Linked DNA regions of Homo sapiens: region 1 is linked to region 2. Evidence: fine-mapped QTL for protein levels in blood plasma. A gene starts in region 2. The other region holds a variant in brackets. All regions are shown on one strand. Distances are between the middles of the regions.

Region 1 (2,910 bases), 71 kb before region 2:
ATGCCAAGTCACCTGTCACTTCTAAACCACTTCTCTGTTCATTTAATTATTCTTCCCAAGTACCTGTTAGATATAGACAAATTTAACAGCATTGTGGAATCTACTACAAATAATGTCCATATAGTCAGGTACAGTGGCTTACATCTGTAATCCAGCTACTCAAGAGATGGAGGTGGGAGACTGCTTGAGGCCAGGAGTTCAAGACTAGCCTGGGCAACAGAGTGAGACCTCATCTCCAAAAAAGTTTTAAAAAACTAGCTGGGCATAGTAGCACATGCCCATAGTCCCAGCTACTCCAGAGGCGGAGGTGGGAAGATTGCTTGAGCCCAGGAGTTTGAGGCTATAGTGAGCCATGCTCTCACCACTGCACTCCAACCTGGGCAACACAGGGAGACTCTGTCTCTAAAAAATAATAAGAAAACAGTAATTTTTAAATGCCCTTAACAAAAAAAAATTATACAATTGTATATCCTCTAAGCCTCACATTTACTAATGGTACAATAGTTCTATTTTTACTATTGGTCTACTGCATATCATCATCACATTAACAGGGTAAAGGAGAAAAATATGATTATGGCAACATGAGCAGAAAAAGCATTTAATAAAAGTCAGTATTTATTCATGATAAAATTTCTTAGCAAAGCAGGAGCTCCCTTAATCTAATAAAGGTTATTTATCCCCTAAAAACATAACAAAACCCAAAAACCTATTGCATATTCCATAGTTAATGTGAAATACTAAAGTTTTCCCCTCCCCCCACCAAGATGGGGAAGAAACAGGATACCTGCTCACATAACTTTTATTTATCACTATGTGGGAGACCCTAGCTGATATAGTAAGAAAAGAAAAAGAAATCAATGACATAAGAATTGGAAAAGAAGAAATAAAACTACTATTGTTTGAAGATGACTTGATTGCATGCCTAGAAAACATAAAATATATACTATTACAATTACTAAGACGAAGTACTAGAATAAGTTAACTTTGTATTATGTACTGAATGTGTGTGCCCACTCCTGCTCTAAATTCTGTGTCGAATCCCTCACCCACAATGTGACAGTATTTGGAGGTGGTGTCTTTGGGAAGTAATTAGGTCATGAGAGTGGGACCATCATAAGGGATTAGTGCTCTTATAAGAAGAGCAAGAGATCCCCCACTCTGTGCACATGTCCAGGAAAGGACCCAGAAGCACACAGCCAGGCAGGCAGCCATCTGCAAGCCAGGAAGAGCCTCCTCACCAGAACCAGACCATGCTGGCATCTGATTGCAGACTTCGCAGTCTTAAGAACTGTGAGAAAATAAATTTCTGTTGTTTAAGCCACCCAGTCTATGGTATTCTGTTACAACAGACGGACTAGACTAAGACATTCAGTCATGCTGCTGGTGTAAGACCAGCATATAAAAAACAATTGTATATCTAAATAAGTAGAAAATAAAATTTAAAAATCTATATAACTACATAAAAACCAAATATTTCAGAATTATCTGATA[A/C]AATATGTGTAAAACTTTTACATTAAAACTACAAAACAGCAAGGAAAGTTAAATAAGACCTTTAAAAACAAAAGGATATACTTTATTCATGCACTGGAAGACTTAAAACATTTTGGCATTGTCAGTTCTCCCCAAATTGATCTAGTCTAAAGATTCAATATAAATTCAATTAAAAACCCAGCCAGCGGGCGTGGTGGCTCAAGCCTGTAATCCCAGCACTTTGGAAGTCTGAGGCAGGTGGATTACGAGATCAGGAGATCGAGACCATCCTGGCTAACATGGTGAAACCCCATCTCTACTAAAAATACAGAAAATTAGCCAGGCGTGGTAGCGTGCGCCTGTAGTCCCAGCTACTTGGAGGCTGGGGCAGAAGAATCGCTTGAACCTGGGAGGTGGAGGTTGCAGTGAGCTGAGATCGCACCACTGCACTCCAGCCTGGGTGACAGAGCAAGACTCTGTTGAAAAAAAAAAAGAGAGAAAGAGAGAGAAAGAGAGAAAGAAAGAGAGAGAGAAAGAGAGAGAGAGAGAAAGAAAGGAAAGAAAGGAAAGAAAGAAAGAAAGAAAGAGAGAAAGAAAGAAAGAAGACAGCAACTAAAAGAAAGAAAGAAGGAAAGAGAAAGAAAGAAGACAGCAACTTTTGGGTTTGAAGTTGGCTTCTTGTTTTTTTCTTTTTTTTTCTTTGGTGGAAATTGAAAAACTGACTCTAAAATTTATTTTAAAACACAATGGGCTAAAAATAGCCAAGATAATTCTGAAGAAAACACAAAGCTCTAGGACTTACACTGCCAGACATCAAGATTACAAAGTTATATAATAAAGAGAGTGTGATACTGGCACAAAGATAGACAAACAGACCAATGCAACATAACAGAGAGTCAAGGGAAGAGTTAATGTTGCAGCCTCAAATCTGAAGGCAGCCTGTGGGCAGAACTGCTTCTTCCCTGGGGGACCTACATGTTTTCTCTTAAGGCATTCAACTGATTAGATGAGGCCCTCTCACCTTATAGAAAGTGATCTGCTCGGTCAGGCGTGGTGGCTCATGCCTGTAATCCCAGCACTTTGGGAGGCCAAGGCTGGTGGATCACGAGGTCAGGAGATCAAGACCATCCTGGCCAACTCTGTGAAACCCCGTCTCTACTAAAAATACAAAGAAATGAGCCGGGCGTGGTGGCGGGTGCCTGTAGTCCCAGCTATTCGGGAGGCTGAGGCAGGAGAATGGCATGAACCCTGGGGGCGGAGCTTGCAGTGAGCTGAGATCGCGCCACTGCACTCCAGCCTGAGCAACAGAGCGAAACTCCGTCTCAAAAAAAAAAAAAAAAAAAAAAAAAAAGGAAAGTGATCTGCTTTACTCAAGATCTACTGATTTAAGTATATCTTAAAAATATCAAGACTGGTTTTTGATCAAACACTGAGGCAAAT
Region 2 (2,910 bases):
TGAGACCCAGACACGGGAGAGGAAGCGAGAGGCCCAGGCCAAGCTGAAGTCCGAGGCTCAGTCGCCCTCCGGAAACCTACTTCCACCCACTTCCTGTGTTCCGAGGGACTGGCTTCCCACGTCCGCGACCTGGCTCTGGCCTCGGAGAAGAACATCGCGACTACAACAACCGAGCCCCAGCAACCCAACCAGCTACCACCGCTTTCCCAGCCTGGCTGGCAGCCTACCGCGGCCACGCCCACCGCGGCTCAGGAAGCCGAACTTCACCGCGCAACTCCGACGTCTCCTCCCATTGGACAACCTGCCAGCCACTCGCGTTAATCCCGCAGGGCTATTGGCCAGAGTCTTTGTTTAATTACGTTTCCTTGGAGCCGCCCTGGCAGTGAGGCGCCCAGGCCTGCCCCCAGCACTTGGCTCCACCCCCTGACTGTCCCTTAACTCGTTGAGCGCGGCTGGAAATCCAAGCGCTTCTAGGTGCTGGTTCAATGCCTGGTTCATGATTTATTTCATTCTCTCCCTCCATCTTGCAATAGGTTACTTTTAATCATTTAGATCTATGACACTATGCTAAACGTTATAGGAGACAAAAAGACTGTGAACAAACAAGAAGAACCAAACGAAAAGAGCCAAGTCCAGGATTCTCGTTCAGATCAGCAAGTCATTGGGATCGAGCTCCTAGGGCAGCTACTACATCTGTTATGTCCTCAAGATAATCCCAGCACCTAGCACTGTGCCTGGCACAAAGTAGATCTTCAATGAAAGAACGAAACGAGCCGTTATATTTACACAGATGTATTTCACTCAGTCCTCTGGAAGAGATGCCTAGTGTGAAAGAGATTCCAAGAATAAATACCATAAACAGCACCGAGCCCAAATCCCACAGCAAACATCCTTATTAAAGGCAAGGAACGTGGGGCGAGTTCCTTTTCTCAGAAGATTTTACGAGAACGCAACTGTTGCGAAGAAGGAACAGACATTCGAGGTTCTGAGTCCAATGGGAACTCATTTAACTTTTTATTTTGCAGCAGATTTCAAAGTCTGCACCCAGCCCCTCCCAGGACACAGGTCTCCTTGCAGCTGCCTTTAACCTAAGCGTATCCTCTCTCCACTTTAAACCAAACGCCGCTGCATGGAGCCCTGGGAGCCTGAGCCATGAGAATCCTGTAAAGAGGGTGAGTCTTGCTATTAGTTAACTAGAGCGAAGTTAGGGGACGCCTTTCTGGTTCTCCTCTCGTTTTAAGAAGTCTCCAGGAAGTAAGCCAAGAGCTAGGAGAGACCAGGTTTCCCCAGCCCCGTCCTGGGTAAACACCCGGCGGGCTTTAGGACCCAGCGGTGGGCTCTCCGGAAGGGGAAGGGGCCGGGCCTCGAGGCACAAGCCGCTGCCGCCAGGGTTTGAACTGCGCGCATGCGCGGCGGCCGCCGAAGGGGCGGGATCCGAGGCAAGCGTTGGTTCTGTGCGCCTCAGGTACGTGTTGGGCGGCAGTGGGCGCGGACTCGGTGCGGTCTCTCGCGGGCTGCGGTCGGGCCCGGGATCCTGCTCCTGGCCGAGTCGCGGTGCGCGGGCTGCTGGGGTCCGGCAGGGCTGGAGGCGGACCGCGAGGAAGCGGCGCGGCCGGGAAGATGGGGCAGGGTCGCCTCGGCCCCGGGGCCTCGGTTTCCTCCGATCACAGCGCCTCAGGGGGCGCGCACGGGCGCTGCGGAGACCTGTGTCCTGCCGGGGCGCGGCGCTAGGGGCCCCTGCTCGGGTTTTTATTCCCAGACCTAAGCTTACAGGTGCGTGGTCCCAGAAAGTGAGTAGGAAAGCGCCCACCACGTGCCAGGCGCTTAAGCTTTCTGTGCTCGGTTTCCCAGTATAGGAGGACGGTCACGGTACGTAGTATAGAGTTGTCCTGAGGGTGAAGCGAGTTTACACTTGGTGAGGCGCTTCGAATCGTGCCTGGCCGGCCCCAAATGAGCACGCAGTAAGGTTAGCAGCTGCTGCCGTCACTTCCTCACGTTCTGAATCTGCTCCGTCCCCAACGCCTTCAGCAAGAGCCCTCTCACTTCCTTTGTCTTCAACCCATTCTCCGCAGAGTTGGAGCACACAGCTGTATTAAAAAGGCAAATCGAAGGCCGGGCGCGGTGACTCACGCCTGTCATCCTAGCACTTTGGGAGGCCGAGGCGGCTGAATCACTTGAGGTTAGGAGTTTGAGATCAGCCCGGGCAACATGGTGAAACCCCGTCTCTACAAAAATAGAAAAATTAGCCGAGCGTGATGGTGGATGCCTGTAATCCTAGCTCCTCGGGAGGCTAAGGTAGGAGAATTGCTTGAACCTGGGAGGCAGAGAGGTTGGAGTGAGCCGAGATTGCGCCATTGCGCTCCAGCCTGAGCGGCAGAGCGAGACTCTGTCTCAAAAAAATAAATGTAAATCGGACTCCCCTTCTTAAAGCCCTCAGTGGGGTCCCATTGATCATTGCATAAAATCCAATTTCTTTAACAAGTCTTCTCCCCTCACCCGCTTCGGACCACTGCCTGCCTTGCCTAAGTCCTTTCTTATGACCTCTTTCCCACCTCTGCCGGCTGGGTTCCCTCTACTTGGGAATGCTCTTCACCCCATCATTTAGACAGCAGGTTCCTTTTGGCCCTCTGGGTCTCATTTATATGTTACTTTTTAAGTATATTCCAAAGGTCACCCCTATTTTTCTGTCTCATACTTATAAAATGTAATGAATGTCTAACTCATCTTGGCTATTAAAATTTTTATGTGTGGGTCTGTCTCTTCTGCCCTGAAATTAGCTCTGCTAGGGTAGAAACTATATTGTTAACGCCTCATTCCCAGTTTTTGGTACATAATAGCTGCCCAGTAAGTTATTGAATGAATGAACTCCAGGGGGTAAGCATGATATCCATTTCACAGACTAAAAAACTG

What was found. PIP is the chance, under the fine-mapping model, that this variant and not a neighbour inherited with it causes the effect. The UK Biobank Pharma Proteomics Project read protein levels with antibody pairs (Olink). The fine-mapping took linkage between variants from a reference panel, not from the people measured, so its PIPs are less certain.
Region 1: its variant is fine-mapped to the plasma level of the TDP1 protein (UK Biobank, PIP 0.93).

Annotation. Positions count from the first base shown.
Region 1 is chr14:89,883,724-89,886,633 of GRCh38, forward strand. All of the region lies in intron 5 of EFCAB11 (EF-hand calcium binding domain 11), which reads right to left. Among named protein-coding and RNA genes, the nearest start is that of EFCAB11, 70 kb to the right of the region's middle. The variant A/C (reference allele first, on the strand shown) is at 1,492.
Region 2 is chr14:89,954,506-89,957,415 of GRCh38, forward strand. It overlaps TDP1 (tyrosyl-DNA phosphodiesterase 1), which reads left to right and starts at 1,422. Exons shown (of 17, transcript NM_018319.4): 1 at 1,422-1,465; 2 at 2,073-2,295. It overlaps EFCAB11 (EF-hand calcium binding domain 11), which reads right to left and starts at 225. Exons shown (of 6, transcript NM_145231.4): 1 at 81-225. The coding sequence starts at 155. RefSeq lists an enhancer at 1-454 and a silencer at 1,520-1,749.